4 linked regions of the Homo sapiens genome follow. The protein of the gene in region 4 purifies or fractionates together with the protein of the main gene of each other region. This does not show direct contact. Each region holds a gene or a part of one and is shown on either strand. Other genes may lie near its edges.

Region 1 (3,500 bases), on a different chromosome or scaffold from region 4:
CACCCCCCAGCCTGCCTCCGCCAGAGACAGGGTCTTGCTTTGTTGCCCAGACGAGAGTGCAGTAGTGGAATCATAGCTCACTGAAGATTCCAACTCCCGACTCAAGCGATCCTCCACCTCAGCCCAAGTAGCTGGGACTACAGGCATGCACCACCATGCCCAGCTAACTTAAAACACACACTTTTTTTTTTTTTTTAATAGAGAAGGGGTCTCATTTTGTTGGCCAGGCTGGTCTTGAATTCCTGGTGTCAAGTGATCCTCCAGCCTTGGACCCCCAAAGTGCTGGAATTACAGGTGTGAGCCACTGCACCCAGGCCCTATATTCTAATTTGCTACCCTGAGACTCCAAATTAGTAAACCCAAATTACTGGGTAGAGGACAATAAAAGTCTCTGCTCTGTAGTATTATTTTCATTAAAGTCTTCTTTGGCCTGGCACGGTGGCTCACACCTGTAATCCCAGCACTTTGGGAGGCCAAGGCAGGTGGATCACTTGAGGTCAGGAGTTTGGGATCAGCCTGACCAACATGGTGAAACCCGGTCTCTGCTAAAATACAAAAATTAGCCGGGCATAGTGGCAGGCGCCTGTAGTCCCAGCTACTCAGGAGGCTGAGGCAGGAAAATCGCCTCAACTCGGAAGGCAGAGGTTGCAGTGAGCTGAGATCACGCCACTGCACTCCAGCCTGGGCAACAGGGTGAGACTCCATCTCAAAACAAAACAAAAAAAAGTCTTTTACATTACCTGTTACACTGCACATGGGAAGTACGCTATAATCATGCTAGTGGCCTTAAGTTTTGGGAGAAGAGGGAGGAGCCCATTCATTTCCTAATGTTTTGATGGGTAAAAATAATTTTTCATGTTTCATGGGCTTAATAAAGAAGGGACTTACGACACATACTTAATTTAAACTAAGAATACTGAAGGATAAAACAGGCAAACGTAAATCTCCCATTCAATTCATAATTCCCAAACTGCTATGAATTAAATGTGAAGAGCAGGGGAAGTAGGAGATAACAGATAGGTGAAGCCCAATCATTCGACTATCATATGCTCCATCTCCAGCGTGCTCAGGAAATTGATCTCCACCTATCCATTTTTAATTGTCACTGCCTATGGAGCTTTGTGGTGTAAGGGGGAAGAATCAAAGCAGATAAGCACAACAAACCCCAAGCGTTAAAGTATGTAATTGTTGCATGTTCAAGTTATTCACATTTTGTGAATAACATTATCAAGAATAATGAGAGCAATCCATATCAAAGAACACAAGGAACCAGAGAGCTTAAAACATGCCCAGGTTCTACTTCTTAGGTATAAGGATATAATAAACCTAGTATAAAGCCTAGATTATATGTAATCCTGTATGAGACCCACTAGTCTATATTGTAAAGCTTCAATGTTTTTAGCACCCTCTGTGTGGAGGAAAATAATGCAGATTATTCTAATTAGTGTAATATCTAACCACATTAAAATATATTACATAGTAAACTACACTCCATAATTTTATAAATTTGACTCCCCAGGGTAATAAACTAGTCTCTAGTCTGCTCACCTTCAACTGTACAATAAAGTCTTGGTTCTTTTGAAATAGACCTCAAATGAGACACCTAAAATTCAAAGTGTCTTTACATTTAAAGACACCTACAGGAAAGCAGGTAAAAGAGCCAGGTTAAAAACAAATTCTAAAACCACTTAGCTGCAGTTAAACATATAGTAAAGATGCACTAAAGTTTCTTACTCTGTAAATCCCTTCCACTTCAGGAAATATTCCACTTTCCCATTCACTACACGTCGATCTAGTACTTTTTCCACGACAAATTCTTCAGGCTCTGCCTCTTCAACTTTTTTACTCTTTCCATTCTGTTTTTTTCCCATTTTTTGCTAAAATAAAACAAAAGAGAAATTAAGAAATATTCCTCTTGAATTTTGAGCACATTTTCAAGGCTCAATTGCTTATATTATTATCACATTCGACATAAATTTTTACTTCTATATCCCAGGGCAGACACCTTCTGGAAAGATTAAAAGTCAACAGACAATAAAATAAAAGAATGCTTTATCTTGTTCATTTAGTTCAAACTTACAACCCACCACCAAAATAATACAATAAAAAAACACTATCTGGAAACAGTTATTTTTTTCCAGTCTTTTTTTTTGAGACAGGGTCTCACACTCTTGTCGCCCAGGCTGGAGTGCAGTGGCGTGATCTCAGCTCACTGCAACCTCCGCCTCCCCAGGTTCAAGCAGTTCTCATGCCTCAGCCTCCAGAGTAGCTGGGATTATAGGCGGATGCCACCATGCCGGGCTAATTTTTTTTGTGTTTTTATTAGAAACAGGGTTTCACCATGTTGACCAGGCTGGTCTCAAACTCCTGACCTGAAGTGATTCACCAGCCTGGGCCTCCCAAAGTGCTGGCATTACAGGCGTGAGCCACTGCGCCCGGCCCTGTAGTCTTAAAAGACCAAGTTTACTAATTTTCACTCATTTTAACAACACTGCAACAAACAACTATGCAGGAAGTACCTAAAGGGTGATACAGAGAAGCAAGTAGTAGTGACAGGTCTTAGGTGAACCTATGACAGACCTTGTATCCACCCCCAGATGGTAAAAGCCCCAGCCCCCTTCTCAATTCAAATATTAATGTCAAAAGCATCAATGATACAGAGAAAAGATAAATGCAGAATGAAAACATGGTTCAAAATCCTGATACCAACTGCAGGGTCAACTATAGAGACCACTAGGAGGTTCAATTAAAGGACAAGATTATTTTTCCATAATCTCTGTAGATAATATTTCCTACCACTTAGAACAAAACTATAAAGCTATCACTTCAAGAGACCAACATTACAAATTTATTTTAATTCCCTAAGGTGAAAAAAATCCTTCCTTCCTGGTTTCTCAAGAGAAAGTCTATACTGGTAACCAAATTCACTTTAAACAGGCATTTTCTTTGGTATGACACTATTTAAGAGAAGCAGGAAACCAACGTGAACCAGCTCTTTCCAATGGCTCAAGATTTCCTATGAGAGGACTAAAAATGGGGAAAATTTTTATGAGAGGATTAAAAATGGGGGAAAAAAAACCCTGAAATGGTTAATCAGAAGATCCTATGGGCTGAGAAGGAATCCATCTTAACATTTCATCTTAAAGCAAATGCTATTGCCGGGGGCAGTGGCTCATGCCTGTAATCCCAGCACTTTGGGAGGCCGAGGTGGGCAGATCATCTGAGGTCAGGAGTTTGAGACCAGCCTGACCAACATGGAGAAACCCCGTTTCTACTAAAAATACAAAATTAGCCAGGCATAGTGGTGCATGCCTGTAATCCCAGCTACTTGGGAGGCTGAGGCAGGAGAACTGCTTGAACCCAGGAGGCTTAAGTTGCGGTGAGCCAAGATCACGCCATTGCACTCTAGCCTGGACAACAAGAGAAAAACTCTGTCTCAAAAAAACACAAAAACAAAAAACCCAAATACTATTTAAAAAAGATAAACCTTAATTGCTCAA
Region 2 (3,500 bases), 4.0 Mb from region 4:
CTGAACCCCTCAGAAACCTTTCCATCCTGGCATGCTGCGAAGGAATTATGTCAGATCATGAACCTAAGGGCTCTTGGTGGCCTAGTGGTGGCTGCGAAAGCCAGCTCTAACCTGAGAAATGCCAAAATGAGCAGGAAAACACATGGGGACGGGGGGAGGCAGTGGATGGTGGGAAAAAAACAAGCAAAGGACTTGTCCACTTGTCCACCAGGACAGGTCCCTGGTAGTCACAGATGACAGCTGAGAACGCCTTGGTTATGAACAGGAAATACAGCAAACCTGGCATGGTTCTGCTGTCAGGAGAAAAGAAGCCACACACACACCTCAGGGCTCTTGCAGAATCCCCATGGAACAAGGCATGCACACTAACAGCTGAAAATGGCCCGTGTCACGGCAAGATCCATCAGGACAAGCTGCCCTGCACAGCATCAGGCCACGTGGAACCTCAGACAAAGACGGTGCTGCTATGTGTGCAGAGCCGATGCAAGTCCCAGTAAAGCTCTTTCCGCCCTATATTCCTAGAATCATATATGTTGTTCCTTGACTTTCTAAGTTAGGAGAGAATGCAAAAAACCCTGAAAGGCCCCCATTAAAAAACTGTTAAAAGGAAATACAAACAATTCGTGCTTTAGTTCTTTAGAAAAAGTTAGCTCATTCTCTAACAATATAAGACAACTGAGACAGTGGGGTGCAGAGTTCTGAGATGAAACCCAGACAATGCATGCATCCCTCCTTATCCAAAGGGACTTGGTCCCTGAATTCAGACAGCAATGACCACCTGTGCATGTTCCACAGAAAAGCCATAGGTCCTCCCTAAGGCCAGCAACCCCGGAGAACACCTTTTTCATCTACCCTCTAAAGTCTTTCCTCTTTTCCCCAAATCTTAGGCAGAAAGAATAATGACTGGGACCAATGTCTCCACACTGCAGGACTTCCTTCTGAGAAGTCTCCTCAAACTCAAAAAATTTTAAGCCAAGATCATATTTTGTGCATTATACTTAGCCCTTAAGGACTCTGGACCAAGCACTTAATATTGTAATTGGTTTTCCAGCGCTTTCTCTAAGTTTCTGCTCGATTGAGTTAAAAGCGCTGCTGTCCTTAATTTGCTTAAGGCTTCAAACACGATCTAAAAGAAGTGGTGCACAGAGCTCTCGTCATGTGAGAACAATTCAATGTGATGTCTTGCCAGGAATGATAAACTCTGGTGACTTGATAAATCTCAGAGTTCAGATTTCAGATGAAGTTAGCTTTCAGCCTGGCATTCCCGTCCAAGCACATGTAAGGCTCCGCAAAATTGATGACACCATAAAGGAGTCCAGTTTCCACCACCACGATGCTCCGTCCTCAAAGAGAGCACATCCCAGTCGCCTCTCTCTGGAGGGCTTTGAATGCCTCTCTGATCAGTCAACAGGACCCTTGAATGAGCACTTATTCATTGTGCCAGTAATCTTTTCAGAGGACAGCAGTGGCAGCAGGTAGTACATACTTACTAGTCTTATAGCGTGCATTTAAAAATGAAATTGAAGCCTCCTAGAACCAATACAATTCAAATACATTAAACTCTATCTCCTAAATGCTTGTTTTGGAAGTCTCTCGATTGTAGAAGGTGTATTCGGAAAGACGTTTGCAAAACTGGTCGAGTATTTCCTTCACACACGAAAAGCCTGCCTTCTGGGATGCAGGCTTGACCCCATGCCTGAAACTCACCGCCCCCAGCCTGCCCACCGCTGAACTGGGTCTGCTGCCCCAGTCGAGTGGCCTCATATCTCCGACTCACTGCACACAAACAAAACTCATCTCTCCCAAGAACCCCTGTTTTCTTTTCAATTTATCTCGTAAGTGCTTTAAAAGCTTTTGAGAGATGAACTCAGTGGCGCTGCCTGCCGTGGCAATGACCTTGGGATTATATGGTTTACAAAGAGAAAGCAAGCAAACAACAAAAGGAGGTGTCAGAAACCAGCCACCAGTCTTGCAAAGAATGCTTTCTCTGGGACACAGACCGAATAGAAACAAAGTAAATCACTCGGGCCTTCTACGTACACAGAATGGGCAACCAGGAGAGAAAATGATGTTTGAGCCTGTGAAATACAAGAGGGGGAATCTTGGGAGAGAAGCAGAACCACCTCTGTGAGCTAAAAACATCTTTTTAGTTAATCTCCCACCTCCAGAAATGGACACCCACTATCCCCAAAACAGATGCAAGTAAATCACGGAGTAGCAAACATTATACTAAATTGCATTCATCTGCGTCTCCCGCTCTTTCTAGTGTACTCACACAATGTGAAAAGGGCGCGGCACACAGACCCACCGCGCAAGGCGCATTTACTGCCTGCAGCCGGAGCTGTGGGCGCAGCGCACTTACCGAGGACTCGCTGTCCCTAATGAGGAAGTCGCCCTCCACGCCCCGCTCGTTGAGGGCGCACTCGGCCTGGTGCCGCGTCACGTTCCCGTAGTACCACTCTCTGCCCGCGAAGCGCCCGCTGGACGAGGGCCCGGTGTAGCTTATCTGTGGGGCGTGCGCAGGGTGCAGGGCAGGCCCGTCACTGAGGACCACCACGTAGTTTTTGGGGACGAGGCCCACCTGGCCCCGGGCATTTTTGCATTTCCACCACTCGGGGTCGTTCTCCGGCTTCTCAATCACCTCCATGGTCTCCCCCTTCTCGAAGTTGAGCTCCTCCTCGGTGACTGAGCTGAAGGGGTACAGCGTCTGGACCACATGCAGCACGCGGGAGCCCTGGCCATTGCTCAGCGAGGCGCCCTTGCGCAGGCTCAGGAAGCTTGGGGACTCCGCAGCCGCCTCGTCCACCTCCTCCAAGACGTAGTTGGAGGGGAACCAGCCGATCTGCCCGTTGTAGCTGCCCCGCCACCAACCGTCGCTGCACTTCTCCATGACGGTGACGCGCGACCCCTTCACCAGGGACAACTCATCCTCCCGCTCGGCCACATAGGCGAACTTGACGAAGGCCGGGATGTTGAGGTCGTAGATGCGGTCGGCGCCGCTGCCATTGGCGGGGTACTCGGCGTCCGTGCTGGGCGTGGGGGACGCATCCCGCGCGCTGGTCTTCCTGCGCGTCTTGCCGAGGCCTGTGGAGACACAGCAAGGCTCAGTGGCGCAGGGCACTTGGGCACCACCACACTCCCTAGCCTACCGGGATTTCCACGCAGTTTCTCTGGCGGTTAAATACAAGGGGACGACACATGGACAGTGCTTACAAACTGTAATTACCATGAGAAAAATACGGTTGCTGGCAGCTGCCTCCTGTAGTTGCGAAGTTACTTAAAGTTGAGAATTAAATTGATCTATTTTATCCATAAAAACATGTCACAGGGCCAGCACAGTGGCTCACGCCTGGAATCCCAGCCTTTGAGAGGCCCAGGCGGGAAGATTGCTTGAGGCCAGGAGTCTGAGACCAGCCTAAGCAACATAGCGAGACCGTGTCTGCAAAAAAAAAAAAAAAAAAAAAAAAAAAAAAAATTAGCCACCTGTGGTGCACATCTGT
Region 3 (3,500 bases), on a different chromosome or scaffold from region 4:
ATCAAATACATTTATATCCATGAGAGAGTATGATGATACCAAAAACACCACCCAAGACAAACTGGTCACCTTTAGAGGGTGCTAGCAAACCAACTCATTATTTTAAAAACTGGTAAATAAAGGGGAAAACCAAAACCCAATCATTTATCTTGCCTTTTTCCTTAATACACACTAACTCCAAGGTAACCAAATTGTTGATAAAGAGATGTTCTTTTTTATAGGAATAATCTAGCTAATAAATGGAGAGGGAATGATAAAATTAGAAAATCTTTCAATAGAAAATGAATGAACCCAGGAAATAATCCAGACTGAAAACATCACAAAAACATGAACAACCAGAAAATACTCACCTCTGATAAAAGCTTACAAATTACTTATGAAGTAAAGTTGCCAAGAACATTTAAAAATTTTTAAAAGAAAAAAACAGTGAACCTGAATTTGAATAAGTCTTTAGATCTATAATCAATTCACAGGAGAACTGTGAATAGAAATAGAGAAGCACATTAAATAACACAGGAATGCAACTAGCAAAATCCAGACTGTCGGAAACTTGACAAGACAAAGTAGCCAATTTCGTCAATTAAAAAAAAAAAAAAAAGAACATAAAAGAGATGAAGGGGAATCTATGGATGAAGAGAGACCTGAGAGACCTATCAAACAACTGCAATACATAAATCTTATGTGATCCCTATCTAAATAAACTGTAAAACACCACATAATGCATGTGTAATACTGGGCATTTATAGATAGGTATTAAAACTGAATGCTGAGTACATTAAGTTCATTATGTTATTTTCTCTACTTTCACCTTCATATTGCTCTAGACATTCCTCTTTTCCCATATGTCCACCCAAGCTTTTAAGCAAAATTTGAAGAAAAAGCAGACATAATATAAATAAGTATAACTGTAACATTATGAAACTAATTATTTTGCCATCCTAAATTCAAATAGTGAAAATATGAAAATTAGCTAAAAGATCACCCTCTATTGTGTAATAACCCTTTTTAAGGTTTCAAAGAAACTCCATGAAAACTTACCAGAATCTACCTGTGATGAAAGTATCACCAATGACTGTGATGTTTCTAAATCATAAATTACTGCACTACCAGTGTTGAAAGAGGTTACCATATGAGCTGGATCACAGCCTATAAAGTCAACTGATGTAGGTATTCCATGCTCTGAAATGAGCCCAAAGACAGACAATGTAAACAAAGTAAAATTACTATGAAATCTCTACTTTTTGAAATCTCTGTTTTTCTAATCAGAAAAAGGAATTCAAATAGTCTTGAAATACTGTTAATAATGAAAAGGAACACAACTGTGTCAGGATGGTGAGATAAGAAATATCTTTTCCTCAATTATTTAAAAACTTTATAGCATTCTATTTAATATTGTAAGAAAAATATAACTACAGAGCTCATAAAGAGTAAATACATGCAAAAGTTATTTGTTCTATTACACGTTTTCTTCTAAGGGATTAAATAAAATCCTAGTCTTTTGGCCAATTTGCCAATTATACTTCTTACTGTAAAATGATAAATTAGCATTCTCACATAACTTTGGGAGACTGGTTCACCTATCAGAGATCTGTAGGCCTTATCAAGCAGCTAATACAAGTCAGATTTTTGGACTCATGAAAATGGCTTGGACTCTGGAATCAGCTGATGCAGTACTTTACCCTAAAATGGCCTGAGCAGCAATTTCTCTCTTTAACATACTAAATTAAACTAGCCAGATCAATGCACAATTAGATGGAATATGGAGCCAAGCTATTAACTATCTAGATGAAGCCAGAAACAAATACCTAAATGAATTCTTACCTCTAAAGCTTGGATAACTGAAAATTAGTACAATCACTACGGTGTCTAAGAGACACAAAATTATATATTTACTATTCACCTAAAATGTTTTAAAACAATATGTATTTTTATGTACAAATAAAAGGTCTAATTAAAAAAATTTAAAATGACTTGGAAAATAAGACCAGTAAATGTCTTCAAAAGGTAAACTGGTTAAAGCCTTTTTAAATAGGAAAATATTTAAAATCATGAAAATAACCCAATTTGTACTGTTCCAGTTAGGGGTTCAGTGACTATGGCTGGACTACTCAACTAGTGTGCTCGAGGTAATGGAACACAGGGTTTATAGGTATGCTTGAGACTGTGATCCCTTCGGTCTTTGTGGGGTAGTCGTCTGGAACAGGTGGTGTGCCTCCTGTTGTCCCTATGAGTATCCTCATTTGTCTATTCCACTGTTATATACAATAGTTTTACATTTTTAAAAAATGGAATACAAAAAAGGTAAAAAAGCATTGCACTACAGGACATAGTTGCAAAGCACTTCAAAAAAATGAGTAAAAAGTTTATCCTAACTTTTACAAAATTCATTCAATATATCTCTTTGGAACAGTAAAGAAATACATCAATTACTTTGTCCTTTATATATTCCAATTTTTTAAAAAAACTAACTTTTCTCACAGATGCAAAATTTACTTACTTTTATCTCCATTGTAAGTGCAAATACATGGCAATTTTTCTTGTGGATTCCATAACCTAACAGTGCCATCTGCTGAACAAGACAGTAATTGATTTTTTATGCCACTATAAGCAAGACCCCAAACTGCATCTGTATGACCAACTAAAGTGCCAGCTAGAACATTTGGCTCTGGGGAAAAAACAAACAAACAAAAAATTAGGTAAAAGAAGTTTAAAAGAAACTTTGATACATAAAGAAAACTTACCATATAACTGAGCATAAAGAACACACATAAAGGCCACAAGAAGATAAACTAAAGTGTACATAGTGGCTATATCTAAGAGTAGAGTTATGGCCTACTTTTATACCCTCCTCCCATCAACATTTTTCTGTATTTTCACAATTTTCTATAAAGAAACATATGCTTTTTTTTTTTTTTAAAACAGCTTTCTTGAGATACAGATATAATTTACATACCATACAACTCTCTCATTTAAAGTGTATACTTCAATGATTTTTGGTATGTTGTTCACAGAGTTATACAACCATCATGACAATCAATTTTAGGGTACTTTCATCACTCATTAGTCACTTCCCCCAATTCCTCCTCCCCACCTTTCCACAAGTCTAGGCAACAACTAATGCTCTGTCTCTATAGATGTGTCTTTCTGAACATTTTCTATAAATGGAATCATACAATATGTGGTCTTTTGTGACTGGGTTCTTTCACTGAGTATGTTTTCTTTTTTTCTTTTTGAAATAGGGTCTTGCTCTATCACCCAGGCTGGAGTACAGTGGCATGGTCACAGTCCACTGCAGCCTTGAACTCCTGGTCACTGAACATGTTTTCAAGGTTTATCCATGTTGGAGCATGTATCAGTACTCCATTTATTTTTAGTGCCAAATAATATTCTGCTGTATGGATATACCATATTTTATTTATCTGTTCCTTAACTGACAGACATTTGACAGCTGATAACATTGAGCATAATTTGTCTGACAATCCTGTTTTTCTAGTAAACTC
Region 4 (3,500 bases):
CTCAGGGTCGCAGTGTCTCTTCATGTGTCACAGACTTGTCCATGAATGTGGCAGGTTGTGAACAGTCGGTGAAGTGAGATGTCAGTGGCATCCTAGTGCTCACTTCACTCCTTTCATTTTAATGTAGGTTTGAAGTTTTTTTTTTTTCAGTATGAGGTAAAATTCTAGATCAACAAATGTATATACACAGATCCTTGAGCTTTGGTGTAAAGACACATGTCTATATGACAAAGTCTTCTTTAAAGGGGTCAGTCCAGAAAGCAAGCCTCTAGTTAAATAAGCCTGATTTAAAGAGTTTTGGGAGGGAAGTTATGTTTCTACAACTTTTATTAATAAAATATTAAACCTAAAATGTTGATTTTAGTAAAATATTAATATTTATTACTAAAATTTCATAAATATCCTATAACTAGTAAATAAAAACATTAAATATTAAACCTTAGCGCTTTGAAGTTTTTAATAATAAAAGTTGAAGTAAAATAAAAATGTGTCTCTCAAAACCTTTTTTATGAGTCTAAAGAAGACTTTGTCATGTAGGGAGATCTCCTTACAACAAAGTCCAAGAGTCTGTGTATATACATTTGTTGATCTAGAATTTTACCTCATATTAAAAAACAACAGTAATACTATCAGCTTAACATAAGCAGATCTTTTTTTTATTGTCATGGGATTTGAACTGTATATGACATCTTTGACTTTTTTTTGGTGTCTTCTATTTTTTTTTTTTAATCTCTCTCTTGACTTTATTTGGTCTTTTCTATCAAAAGCCATAGGAGCTCACTTTCTCATGAAACTGGGTAACTATAAAAGTCTTACAAAACTGACATTGTGGCAATTTATGGTTAAAGAACTTCTCATCTTCTCCTGTCCCTGCTCCTGCTTGCCTTACTCTCTCTTTTCTGTCCTTTGCTTTAGGATCTGACCGCACTGGCCAAAGAGCTTCGAGCAGTGGAAGATGTACGGCCACCTCACAAAGTAACGGACTACTCCTCATCCAGTGAGGAGTCGGGGACGACGGATGAGGAGGACGACGATGTGGAGCAGGAAGGGGCTGACGAGTCCACCTCAGGACCAGAGGACACCAGAGCAGCGTCAGTCCCCGGTCTCTTTTAGAGCGGATGAGAGTATTCTCTCAGAGCCTGCTTTCCACTGGGACCTAGTTGTTCCTAGACTATTCCGTGACCCCATGAGCACTTACTATGTAGTTCTCGTGGATTCAGCAGCAGGTCGCCTTGTGTTTCCCCTTCTCTTCGTTGGTGTGTGCATATGTCAGTGCTTCCCCCAGCACCCCAGCGTGTACTTTATTTTTTCCTTTTGATTTGAGGATATATGATCCAGGGGAAATTTCAGTTTGGTATAACTACTTTAATTAGCCATAATTATTCATTCTAAGTTTTTGCTCAGAAACAAATGGCACTGGAAAGAAATTCTTTGTTAAAGGGAGAAAGCTAAGCAGTTGCTTTTTTGGAGGAGGCTTTATATCGGTAGCCTCATCTCATGTTTTGATTTTGAGAAGGCGAAAAGCCTAAACAGGATCTCCTTGACTCCAGAGATTAAGGCCTTTCACGTCTGGATTTTTTCTCCATAGGTCATCTCTGAATTTGAGCAATGGTGAAACGGAATCTGTGAAAACCATGATTGTCCATGATGATGTAGAAAGTGAGCCGGCCATGACCCCATCCAAGGAGGGCACTCTAATCGTCCGCCAGGTACCCGTGTCTTCTCTGTTGTCAGAGGCTGAGCTTCTCCTGTGGTCATTAACCCACTTGCTCATTCACTCACTCATGCTGTTTCTCCATCATCATCTGTTTTCATGTTAACAAGTCCCAGAGGGTCAAGTGTCGAGTGTCGGGGGCTAGGGAGGCAGGTGTGTACTGCATGCCCAGAAGGTAGCGAGTAGTCTCCACCCCACATCGCTGCTCCTCTGCATGTCTGCGGCAGCCCTCATTCAAGCACCGCGCTGAGTCTCACAGTCTATGTCTGAGCGGGAGAGAAGCCACAGGGAGTCCTTAAACAGGCTCACAGAGTGAGGAAGCAGGTCTGGAGTCTGGCAGAGCAGCCACCATGGCTCTGCAGAGCACGCTGGGCTCTGAGTGTCTGCAGTGCCACAGTGGGAGCGGGTGAGGCAGGCAGGACGAGCCTCATCACAGGCCCAGAGACTCGGAGAGCAGAAGGGTTCGGGAGGTTTCTCTTCTATGTTCCAAAATGTTAGTTTTCTCACTTGTTGAATAATTAAATGTGTGCCACCCAGATATGCTCAGTTTGGATCACTAAGCTTTATAACTGTCTGTTCATTTCTTAGCTTAGACTTAATTAAAGTGATACGCTTCTCATTTAAATAGAACAGGGCACCTATTTAGTATTTTGGACTTTGCCCTAAGTGTGTTTCATGCTATGGCAATGCATTCGGATGGAAAGTAGGAAGAATGTGGAAAAGACCAGGATTCAGAGAATCCACAGGTACTTTCTGGAGCTTTGCAAAGAAAGATTTAAAAAGAAAAAAAAAAGGATACTGGTTTTGGTAACAGAAGCTAGCGCAACAGATAAACCAGATTAAACACTCACTGCTCGAGCCGTGCAGCCACCAGATTAGGTACTTTGAATTCTGTTGGCACAAGTTAGGCATTTGGTGAGGAAGTGTGAGCAGTTCAGGCTAATTTCTTTGGTTTTTCCTTGGTAATTTAGCAGAGTTTATAAGTCACACAGCACCTTAAAGCAGTTATCAATAGGGCCATAGGCAATTTTAGCAGCGCTTGAGCGAGACAAGTGTGCCTGTTTTTTCTACAGAGTACAGTTGACCAAAAGCGTGCCAGCCATCATGAGAGCAATGGCTTTGCCGGTCGCATTCACCTCTTGCCAGATCTCTTACAGCAAAGCCATTCCTCCTCCACTTCCTCCACCTCCTCCTCCCCATCCTCCAGCCAGCCGACACCCACCATGTCCCCACAGACACCCCAGGACAAGCTCACTGCTAATGAGGTATGTCTCGCACCACAGCTGGCTGCTTTCCTGGGGTTAGACCAGCACTGCCTAGGAGTTAGTTTGCAAAGGAGACCTTTCCAACACCCTCACCCCTTCCCTTCCCACCCTGCTTTCTCTGTCACCTACCCTTCTCCCCAACCCCAAGTAACATGTTTCAGATCTGCATATAAACCCCTTAACCCTAGATCAGCTCCCCCAAACTTGCCAGTTCACTGTTTACTGTTCTGTAGATAAGTATAGTTGCATGGCTTTATCTAGTTTATTTTTTAAAAATCTAAATAAAATGATTGCTCTGTCCTCAGACCGGTATTATGTATTTGGCATGAAATTCTTATAGTCATTTGTGGAATCTGCCTTTTTCATTCTTTTTATCCAATAAATAAAATATAGGAAGATTCGGTTCAGCAGGCTTGGCCTTATCTGGACAAACTTATTATCCTGTACAGGAATCTCTTTCAAACAGAACTGATTTTTTTTTTTTTTCTTGTTTGGGGGGTGGGTTGTTGGCTGATTACTCT

The links.
Region 1: the proteins of MAP4K4 (region 4) and CBX3 purify together in Homo sapiens (affinity purification with mass spectrometry; one large-scale study listed by BioGRID and IntAct). This does not show direct contact.
Region 2: the proteins of MAP4K4 (region 4) and NCK2 purify together in Homo sapiens (affinity purification with mass spectrometry; 2 studies listed by BioGRID). This does not show direct contact.
Region 3: the proteins of MAP4K4 (region 4) and STRN3 purify together in Homo sapiens (affinity purification with mass spectrometry; 4 studies listed by BioGRID and IntAct, with this or other methods). This does not show direct contact.

Annotation. Positions count from the first base shown.
Region 1 is NC_000007.14:26,204,745-26,208,244, reverse strand, and holds part of CBX3 (chromobox protein homolog 3), read right to left. Parts: intron 1,878-3,500; coding exon 1,735-1,877; intron 1-1,734.
Region 2 is NC_000002.12:105,880,912-105,884,411, reverse strand, and holds part of NCK2 (cytoplasmic protein NCK2), read right to left. Parts: intron 3,085-3,500; coding exon 2,363-3,084; intron 1-2,362. UniProt on the Homo sapiens protein: Adapter protein which associates with tyrosine-phosphorylated growth factor receptors or their cellular substrates. Maintains low levels of EIF2S1 phosphorylation by promoting its dephosphorylation by PP1.
Region 3 is NC_000014.9:30,904,380-30,907,879, forward strand, and holds part of STRN3 (striatin-3), read right to left. Parts: intron 2,666-3,500; coding exon 2,498-2,665; intron 1,180-2,497; coding exon 1,039-1,179; intron 1-1,038. UniProt on the Homo sapiens protein: Calmodulin-binding scaffolding protein which is the center of the striatin-interacting phosphatase and kinase (STRIPAK) complexes.
Region 4 is NC_000002.12:101,868,707-101,872,206, forward strand, and holds part of MAP4K4 (mitogen-activated protein kinase kinase kinase kinase 4), read left to right. Parts: intron 1-915; coding exon 916-1,091; intron 1,092-1,588; coding exon 1,589-1,709; intron 1,710-2,787; coding exon 2,788-2,979; intron 2,980-3,500.